Linked DNA regions of Homo sapiens: region 2 is linked to region 1. The links come from fine-mapping of genetic effects on gene expression. A gene starts in region 1. The other region holds a variant in brackets. All regions are shown on one strand. Distances are between the middles of the regions.

Region 1 (5,366 bases):
GATTCCCTGGAAGAGGACGTCCAGTCCAAGTTAGGTGGGGTTTGGTTCCCGGTGCGTGAACTTGCAGGCTCCACTCTGTACTATCACACCCACCCCCCAATGCCATACACTTCTTTCAATTTAGGATTGTTTATAGTCAGTCGAGTTTTTCCAGATTGACTAAGAGTTCCTCATCTGCCTACTGTAGTCAGCTACAAGAACAGTAAAAGAGACCCAGGACTTGGGCCAGCTGGAAGACTCAGAAAAAAGTTTCTGTGGGATGCAGACAGCTAAAGAATGACAATCACATGCAATTGTCCCAAACCCCACGTCCGCCCCAAAGGACACCCTCATCTGCCCTTTTCAGTCCCCTTCACAAAGAGCTTCAGGAGCCCTTTTATGGGGCATCGCCTCAAGGAAATGAAACTGCTGAGAACAACTCTGACTTCCCCTTATTCGTTGTGTCCAAGGGTTAAAAACGCTTCCCAACTCCCCCTCCAAATGCAAGGTCAAGCGGCTGTCCAAACCACCCAAGGAGAAGAGGGAGTCCTGGACAGCCAGACCCCTGCTAGCTTGGCCACCACAGGCTCCGGCCAGCCCGGCTAGGGAAGAGTTAATCGGATCGGCTTTGGCTGATAGTTCAGGCTCCAAAGTTCAGTCCCAGTCAGAGCCACCCCGGAGGAATTGTAAATCTCAGGGCAGTATTTAACAAAACAAAAGCAACCTGGAATTACATGCAGGTTTGGTTTTCTACAGTACATATTTACTTAATCCCCAAGGTATGCGGCTCCATGTCAGATCAGCTGGCTTTGCGGCCCTTTCACCCCCCTAGTTCACAACAGTTTAAGTTTCAAACTAATTCCCTGTTTTCGCTCTTCCTCTTCACAGGGCTGGCTGGAGACAGCCTGGCCTGCCTCCCTCTCCTGATGGCTCTGGTCACCGCGTGAGTCAGCCTGGCCTGGGCTGGGAGTTGGGTGACAGCCTGCCCACTCTCCCCACTCTGGCACCAGGTCTCCAAAACCTGGAGCAAGGGGTGCCAGGACCACCAAAAAGTTAAAGGCCGTGTTTGGTGGGCAGGACCCTCCTTGCAGCACCACCTTCCAGCTAAATGGGGAGGGATCCCTGGGGGGTGTACTGGGGGGGAGGGGACAGGGTTGAAGGTGAGAACAAGGGCTCTTTATCAGTAGCTGCTTACCCTGGCCTCCTCTTTCCTGCTTTCCAAACACCTGGGCCTCTCAGTGTCGGTCCGGCCAGACTACTGCATACAAGACCGCTCTTCCCTTTTCAAACCCAAACCAAGTACCCTCTCTCGTGTCTTCAGAGCTGCAGCCGCCCAGGTTGGGGCTGGGTAGCGGGTTGCCAAGGAAAATACGAGGCGCCAGCTAGCAGGCGGCTCCCAGCTCTACCCAGGAGTGCGCACACCCTGCACTCACCAGGGTGGCGGCAAGAAAAAGGGGGGAAGGCGGGGGAGGGGGGCACAACACCTTCCTTTGGGAGGCAGGAATGTGGGAAATGGTGGGTCTCTTAGGTTTCAGGGTGGGGGTGAATAGCCAGTCAGCCAGCCACCGATCCCAAAGGAGCGGATCAACTCTGAACCTGCCAAAAAAGACAGTCCGGTGCCCGGGAAATTTACAAGGTGAAACCGACTAGCTCAGCACTCGTGGGTGGCGCGGAGAAGTGGGGTGGCCGGCGACTCTCAGCTCCCGGGCGCGGGATCCCGCAGCGGCAGCAGGTGGGCTTACCCCCGCCCCTGCGGCCCCCCACTCCCTGGAGTCGCAGTGCCTGGTACCTTTCTGGCGCCGCGCTCCGCGAACTCGCGGGCGAGCTGACGCCCGATGCCTCTCCCGCCGCCGGTGATGAGGACGTTCTCCCGCGACAGGTCCCGCAGCTTGGCGGGCAGCACCAGTCCGACGGCTGCTTTCACCACCAGATAGATCATCTGTAGAGGGAACATCACCAGCGCGCCCAGCCGTTTCCACACCATCCTCCGCGCCGCGGAGCCGGGCAGGGGGCGAAACTCCCCGGGCCGAGCAATACAGGAATTAAAAAACACCCCGAACAATAAATAGTAAACCGAATAAGGAGGAGAGAGGCGTCCCACCTGGCCACTCTTGAAATCACCTCTTCCCAAATGCAAAGCACCGGGTGAGAAAAAGAAAAAAAAAAAAAAAAAAAAGATAAATTCTCCTCTGGGGGAGAAAAAGCGTCTCCTAAGGTTGGGACGGTAAAAGAGGTGGAGGGGGAAGCCGGAGGTGGAAAGTTCTAACAAGAAGTTTCTTGCCCCAGCAGCCGTTTCGGCTGGGGAATTCTCAGGTAATGTTTACAGACTGACAGAGGAGTTTAGGGAGGGGAAGAAAAAAAAAAAAAGGCACCAACCACACGCGCGCACCCTGCCTCGGTCCCGCGGTTTCAAAGTGCAAGATTAAAAAAAAAAAAAAAAAAAAAAAAAAAGCTGATTCCAAATTGTAGCGCCCCCACCCCCACCCCGTCTCCAGAAAAAAAAAAAAAAAAAAAGTGGGGGGAAAAAGTGCTTGGAGCTCCCAATTTCAGCCCGCGAAAGTCTCCCGACTCATTGCTATTCTTGGGCTCAGGAAATTGCTTAAACGCGATCTGATTGCCAGCAACGTGCAGGAGAAGTGGGGGGTCCGGGTGTCAGTTTCTTTACGTGCAGCGCTCGCCCTCGCGCGCGCTCGCTCGCTCCGGCTCCCTCCCTCCCTCTCTGTTCCAGCAGAGGCTGGGAGTTGCCGCTCGATCCAGCTCCCCTTCTCTCCCTTTTTAGCATTTATTGCCTTCTTTTTGTCCTTTCCAACTTGGAGAGGGTCCGGGTGTGGAGCGCGCGTGGATCGGACGCCTTGGTCTGCGCGGCCCTATTCATTCGCTCCCCGGGCAGCCGCGTCGCGGAGAGGGCGGCCCCTTTTTCCCCCATTTTTTCAATACCCCATTAAGTCTGATTGACAGTTAAAGTTGTTGGGAGGCTTCACTACCGTTCCTCTGAGTGGCTGCTGCGGCCTCCCCTCCCCCTGCGCCGTCGCGGGGAGCGCGCATAAGGCGCGCACTCGGGCTCGCCGGGACTCGCGCTCTCCCGGGACTGGCTCCCCTCTCTGCAAGCCGGGACTTGCCGCCGGTGTCCCTGAGGGCTCGCAGCTGTAACTCGAACACGCTGGAACCGACTCCGGCGAGCCGGCTGCCTTCTCGAGACGTTCCTCCTTGCCCGGGCCGCCCGCGGGCCAGGTGATCACCCCGAGTGTGGAGCAGGCCCGGGGGAGCTTGCGTATGCCTTGATCCAACCAGGTCACCCAGGGTTTTATTTCAGGTCATTTGGTCATCCTCGGCCTCCAGGTAGGATCAGGAAGCCACTCCTCACCTTTGCCCGGACCTCTTCTGTGTTCACGTAGAGTGGACTTTTAAAAGCCTGACCCAAGTGCCTCACGATGCTTAGGGGGAAGCCGCTGGGGAGCAGGACTTTGCTTTGAGGGGAGGGAGTAGTCAAGGTAAAGGAACCTCTGCTCCGAGTGCCAATAAAATCCCCACAAGATTAGCTGGGAGCATATTTATTGCTCATCTGAGCTAGAATTACCTTGACTGACACCAATTTCCTTAATAACAAAAGCCTGTAAACAAAACGTCCTATTCGTGCGCCCCTGTGCTGTGCAGCCAGCGTCTCCTGTCCTTGGGTCTCCCTGGACTGCCCTGGCGGGGCACCCACCTTCTAACCTCCTGCCCTTCCCGACCGGAATGTCTCCCCTGCTGGAGGGTGGGACCGAGCTATTTAGAGTTGTCTGTTGCAGGAAGTCTGGGAGGTGAGTCACTAAAAAGCAGCCCCAGTTCAAAGTGCTGATGGGACTTGCCTCCCGCCCCCCTGCACGTTCCCGGGGCCGGAGGAGCGAGAGCGAAGCAGGGAGCTGCCCTGTAATCTGGGGCAGCCGTTTCCAGCCCGCGACTTGTTCAGACGGCGATTCCTGGGCCTCACCCCCAGAGATTCTGATTCAGCAGGGCTGGGTGCGCTGGGATCGGTACTTTCAATGCTCCGCCTGGTGAGAAAGTCACTTCGAAAAACGCTGATCTGCGGGGAGGGGAGGCTGGGATTACCTCGTCACCTGCAAAGACCTAGTTCTGGGGAGAGGTTCTGCAGGGGAGGATCTTCCTTCTGGGTGAAAAGCCACTGGAAGAGCAAAAGGCAGGAGAGGCTTAGGATGAGCAACTGTCCTGCACTGAGGGCCTATATTCTGACACAGTCCTTCCCCTGACCTTGCAATCGGGGGACTGTTATCCCATCGTCCAGGTTACCCAGCCAGGAAGTGCAGGAGGGGGGATCCCAATCCAAACCTCTTCCCACTCTGACCAGACGGGAGGAGAGAAGTGGAGGATGGGGTTCAGCTAAGGGTTGCAGAGCAGAGACCCCCCCACCCCCCTAACGCCCCCAAGAGTCTGACCGAAGGGCGGACCAATGTCTCCATCAGACCCCAGGGCCGGAATCCATTGTGGTGACGGCCTCCTCTCATCTTCGAGGTCTGTAAAAATGGGAAAGCGATTCCAGCCTGGGAGTGACAGGCCTTTCCCACCCAGCAGCGGCTGGTGTCCGCCAGGCCTGCGAAGAAGCCTGGAAAGATCTGAAGACAGAACCAGGCTGCAAAAGCGGGCTTTGCTCATCTGTTGTCCTCGGAGCCGCCTGGTGGCCCAGATAGGATACTGCGCCTCCGAGCTGCCCGGCCTCCAACCCAGCGGCGTTCCTGCTAACTAGCCATGCTTTTCTTCCAGGCATTTCTCTCATGTAAGGTTAACACCCCAAGTCTAAAAGGGCTTGTGAAGATCATAGTCCTCCTCCCCCACCCCAAACACACTTTTATGGCTGGGGAAACTAAAGCCAAAAGATATGAAGCAACTCATATACAGAGATGCATTTTCACCCCGGTCAGATGCCAGACCGGCTGGGTAACCGTTAGGTCCCTCTTACATCTCTCTGGTTGTGTGCCTGGGATGGAGGGCAGACGGTGGGAAGGAGGTCGGGAACCCAAATTGGCCTTTAGTGCCTCAGGGCCTTTACACAGTTTCTGATTGAATTTCCTTAACAGCCCAGGGAGGCTCGTGCCCATTTATTGCAGGAGGAAACAGGCTCAGTAAATCTAAGTAACTTGTGCAATGCCACGCAACCTGCTTCTCAAAAGGTTTGGGATGAAATCAGAGGGAAAAAGAACATGTCAGACATTCCCCAAAGGAACTGACAGTTCCAGAAGCTGGCCTGAGGTGGATGGTGGCCTTTTTTTCTACTTGGTCCATCTTTCAGGATGTGGTTTTTGTGGGACTGGCAGCTCTGCAAGCCACACGTTTCTCCCAGCATCAACTGCTCAGAGAGAAACTTGTCACCTCCTCTGTTGCCCTCCCCCGAG
Region 2 (5,366 bases), 29 kb before region 1:
GGCACCCACTAACTAACTGCTCAGTACCCACTCCCTGTTGGTATTTCCCGTGGGGAGGAAAAGCTGAGAAAATCATAGCACTGCCTCTGATACACCCTCTTCACTGCCTCTGATACACCCTCTTCACTGCCTCTGATACACCCTCTTCTGCAGGCTTTAAAATGATAAGTGACACGACATGGAAAAATGCTCAGGAGTCTAATGTTCAGACAAAAGGGGTGCAGCACTATTTGAATAAGATAATCTCAACTCTAAACTTTTTTTTTTTTTTTTTTTGAGACAGAGTCTCACTCTGTTGCCCAGGCCGGAGTGCAGTGGCGCAATCATGACTCACTGCAGCCTCCATTTCCTGGGCTCAGGTGATCCTCCCACCTCAGCCTCCCAAGTAGCTGGGACCAGAGGTGCAAGCCACTACTCCTGGCTAATTTTTATATTTTTTGTAGAGATGGGGTTTTGCCATGTTTCCCAGGCTGGTCTCAAGCTCCTGGGGCTCAAGTGATTCTCCCACCTCAGCCTCCCAAAGTGCTGGGATTACAGGCATAAGCCACCAGGTCACTGGAAGTCAACAGGCTACACAGAGATGGGTGTCTCAGGCAGGATCACAGCTGACTGTCGTTTGCTTCTTTATATTTGTATAAGCAAAAAATATCTCTAAAGAACAAGTATTGTTATTTATGATCTTAAAAATAGAAGGTGGGGCTGGGTGTGGTGGCTTAGGAGGCTGAGGTGGGAGGATTGCTTGAGCCCAGGGGACAGAGGCTGCAGTGAGCCAAGATCTCACCACTGCACTCCAGCCTGGATGACAGAGAGAGAGCCGGTCTCAAAAAAACAAAAACCAAAAAACAAAACAAAACAAAACAAAACAAAAAACAACAGAAGGTAGAGTAAAAGCTTCCCCATGGATCACTCTCCAAATAGATTCTTTACACACAGGTAATGTCACTCAGCCCTTTGGGTCCAACCCCTTGTCCCCCAGCCCCCGAGTGGTGCTCTTCGGGGGCCCTCATCCATTGGCAAGTGACTGTCTATTCACATCTCTCTTCCTGTTGTTGAGTGAGTGAGGGAGGGAGCCTGCCGGGGATCCACAGCTCCCAGTTTCCACTCACTCATTACACAGTGCTCTTGGCCCTGCATGTGCTGTCACGGCCATTTGGGGTCTATATCCTGTCTCTTAGAGGACAGGGACTAAATCTCTCAAATTCAGGTTTCTCCTGTGTCCCTACCTGGTGCCCGGCCCGGGCTGTTTTTCTCTGTTTCAAATGCCAGGGCTACTTATGGACTCCTATTCAACCTGCAAAACCCTACTTGAATGCTCCCTCAGTTCTGAAGCCTCCCTGGCTGCTCCTTCCAGCCTCCCCACAACAACAACAGCACCACCACTATATAATGGCTAAATCTGTTGAGCAGTTGCCATGGGCCAGACACTGTGCTGAGTACATGGATATGTTTTCTTCTTTAATCCTCACAACCCCTCGAGGTGGGTATGTTTACCTTCTGCATTTAATAGGTAAGCCGCAGACAGACAGTGACTCACCCAAGGTCATGCAGCTCATAAGAGCAGATCTGCCTGACTCAGGATACCCATTCCTCACTGCTAACACTAGTCTTTTTTCAACCTCCACTAGTGCACAGATGTGAGCATGCTGACTGGTGAACACCCCTGCCTCTCCCATGAGCGTGCAAGGTCCTCCAGGGAATCTTATTCATCTCGTAACCCCAGCATCCAGCATGGGCCAGGCACAAGAGTAAAAGCTCAGCTAACATCATCACAAGACACCAGCCCCAGGAGGATACCGAGTGCCCCTTCTCTACCCAGCCTTGCCTTCCTAGCCCAGAGGGGCTTGCACTAATGCTGGACTTGGCTTTCATTCCTGGAGTTCAGCTGCAGCGCACCCTCCCACCGGCGACATGAGCTGGGTGGTCTCTGGGTGCGTCCCAGGAGGAGCATCTGTTTATAATTGGCAGCCCCTGAAAGATCTGAGACCCTGGGCAGGTCTTTGGCAGGCCAGCTCATGTCCCATGGGCCCCATGTTTTGGAGCTGGATCGGTGCTGACTTGGCTTCTCAGAGGGAAAGAAAATACCCGCCAGAGACCCCAAACCACAGCAGGCTGGGCGGTGGGGTGGGAAGGTCACAGCGTGGAGGGTGCACAGCTCTCTGCTCCTGGCCCCTCCAGTAGGAGGCTGTTAATAAAAATCCATCCCTGTGGTCAGATGAGAATGAGCAGGCAAGCAACATCTAGCTTTTAAGACATTAAGGTTAGAATGGGGTGCTAGATAGCAGAGGGTGAGTGTGAGCGTGGCATAGGTTACTACTAGAATTTCCCCCTTTCACAACCCTGTCTATTTCCAAAAGGAGAGACCCTTTCTCGAGTAGAGCAGCTTAGAACATGGGCTCTGGAGCCAGACTGCCTGGGTTCAATTCTTTAACAGTTATGAATTAACATGATCTTAACCTCTATGAATTAAGGTTTAAAACATCCACTCTTTTTCTTTTCTTTTCTTTTTCTTTTTTTTTTTTTTTGAGATGGAGGCTTGCTCTGTGGGCTAGGCTGGAGTGCAGTGGCGCGATCTCGGCTCACTGCCTCCTCTGCTTCCTGGGTTTGAGCGATTCTCCTGCCTCAGCCTCCCAAGTAGCTGGGATCACAGGTGTGCACCACCACACCCAGCTAATTTTTGTATTTTTAGTTGAGATGGGGTTTCACCATAATTCACCAATATGGTGAATTACAGGTGTGAGCCACCGTGCCCAGCCTAAAACACCCACTTTGAAGAGTAGTTGGGAGGATTAAGAAAGGGCACAATAAATGCCAGCTGTGGGCTGGATATGTTGGCTCACGCCTATATTCCCAGCACTTTGGGAGGCCGAGGTGGGGGAATTACTTGAGGCCAGGAGTTCAAGATCAGCCTGGGCAACATAGCAAGACTCTGTCTCTGTTTTGTAAAAAGCTAGCTGTCATTATTATTATTATTATTATTATTATTAGCACAGCAACAGAAATAGATCCCCCTTTGCAGTAGAAGATCCACATACCCTGTTGGGGAAACAGTTGCCCGGAAGACCCCATCTGGTCTCCACCTCCATCTGACTACCCTAGGCACAGCCTTGACTGGGGCAAAACCACAGAATCTTGCTATTTCTTGATTCCATCCTTCCACCTTACTTAGAAGGCTCTCCTTTTTCTACGTCCCCAAGCCTGAGAAGGTAGAGACCAGCTGTCAAAACTGTCCACCTGCAGAGCAAGCTGCGGGGGGATTTCTTAGGGAGGAGAGGTTTTCAAGCAGAGCCCCAAGGAACTCTGGGGGTTCTGGTGAGGAG[C/A]CTCTGGAGGTGCTGAGGGTGGGGTGGGGAGCAAGCAGATATCATTCCAGGCTTCTCCTCACTCCTGCCCCAGTCACCCAGAGTGGTGACACTTTAGGTTTCTAGAATAGTCATTTCTTTTGCTTTGAGATGATGTTTCACTCTTGTTGCCCAGACTGGAGTGCAGTGGCGTGATCTTGGCTCACTGAAACCTTCACCTCCTGGGTTCCAGCAATTCTCCTGCCTCAGCCTCCCGAGTAGCTGGGATTACAGGCATGCGCCACCACGCCCGGCTAATTTTGTAATTTTAGTAGAGACGGGGTTTCTCCATGTTGGCCAAGCTGGTCTCGAACTCCTGACCTCAGGTGATCCACCTGCCTCGGCCTCCCAAAGTGCTGGGATTACAGGCGTGAGCCACCGTGCCCGACCTAGAATAGTCATTTCTACAAAGACTCTGTCGCTAAAAAAAAAAAATAGTTGGAATGTGACTCTGAATCCGCAGCCTCTTCCTCCCCAGCACAGCCCTGGAAGGAAGCCTGCTTTCTCCGAATGGACTCCAGTGGGATCCCTCTAGCTGTCACCCATTGAGAGTGCTGGCCTGTCACTCGGGCACACCCAACAAGCCTACCAGCCCTTCTGCTTCCAGTGCAGATCCACACTGATCACACTGATCAAAACTGATCCACAATGATCAGGTACCGACTTCCAGCATCTCCTTCCCAGACTTTCTAATCCCTTCCACCTTTTTTTCTGGGAGGCCTGTTTTCCAGACTCTACACAATCCAGTCTGCATGCTGTCAGGTAAAAGGATGGGGACAGAGAGATCGTGCGATTCTGTGGTTTTGTCCCACTCAAGGCTGTTTCTAGGGGAGGAGACAGACATAGAGCTTCGGGTTTTCCAGGCAACCATTACCCCAGCAGGGTTCTGGATCTTCCATCAGCAAGGGGGATCTATATCTGTTGCTGTACTAATAAAAATAGTAACAGCTAGCATTTATTGGTGTAGCCCTAGGTCGTTACAGGTGCCCCACGGCTGACCCCAGGAGGTCAGAGGTGACAGAAGCCACTGGGCCTGTCAGGGACTTCGGCTAGGTCCTTATGTGTCCTTCCTGTTCCTGCACTGCTGGGCTGCTGAAGCCTAGGCAGGTCTCTCCCACGTAGCCCTGCAAAACAGGCTTTCCCTGGCTCCAGGCCCCTGTTTTGGCCTGCCGAGAATGTTTTGGCTACCGCTGGCTCAGCTGTTGGGGAGGATTGTGATGAAGCTCCTCAAATTAGATCAGCCAGTGGTGTCGCCCTCCCACAAGTCCCTGACCGCAACCTGGAGCAGGGCAGAGACTTCCTCCAGGCGGACGTCCAGCCTGGAACTGGCCCGCTTGGGAGGCACAGGAATGACAGTAGCTCTGACATGCACGTGGGGCTCACTAGCTGGCCACACTGCCTCAGCATGGGTGCCGTGGGGCGTCTAGTCCTCTGTCAGCTCAGAAGGGCTCATACCCGAGAAAACTGATACACGAAGGGGCTATGTAATTCCAAGCGGTAAGCGGTAGAGCTGGGACCTCAACTTATGCAATCTGTGCCCTTGGCCACTGACTTTACCTGCGGGAGCAAAATGACCCCACGAAACAACATATTCATTCAGTGCACAGGTACAGTGAGCTGATGCCATGTCCAAGGACTGGACAGAAAGGTGTCCACCTCCCAGGGAATGAGGGAAAGGTGCGGTCATCATTCGGTCTTGATGACCAAGTGGTTATGAAAGGCATGGCAGAGATGTTCCTTGCCCCTCTGCGAGGACACTGGGGCTCTGATGGGGCTCAGGTGGGAGGACAGGTGAGGACAGAAGCTGTTCTGAGCATGGGTCAGCACAGTGCCCAGGGCTGGTGTTTGCTGTGAGGGGGTATGGGGTTTGCCTGGAGCACCCTTGCTCTCCAAGTGGGCGGGGTGGGACTGTGACAAGCACTCACCGCCACCACAGTGAACAATCTGTGGACCTTTACTGCAGGCTGGATCCTGCTCTGGGCTCTTAGACTGAATCCTCTCGGCTGCCCGGATGTGGTACAGTCGGCTGAT

Evidence for each region. PIP is the estimated chance that this variant, and not a neighbour inherited with it, causes the effect.
Region 2: its variant is fine-mapped to the expression of DHRS3 in whole blood (TOPMed, PIP 0.97).

What each region holds. Positions count from the first base shown.
Region 1 is chr1:12,615,386-12,620,751 of GRCh38, forward strand. DHRS3 (dehydrogenase/reductase 3) reads right to left here and starts at 2,825. Exons shown (of 6, transcript NM_004753.7): 1 at 1,769-2,825. The coding sequence starts at 1,963. RefSeq lists enhancers at 2,450-3,081, 3,082-3,713, 3,714-4,345 and a silencer at 4,581-4,832.
Region 2 is chr1:12,586,885-12,592,250 of GRCh38, forward strand. The region is part of intron 1 of DHRS3 (dehydrogenase/reductase 3); the gene reads right to left. Among named protein-coding and RNA genes, the nearest start is that of MIR6730, 11 kb to the left of the region's middle. The variant C/A (reference allele first, on the strand shown) is at 3,318.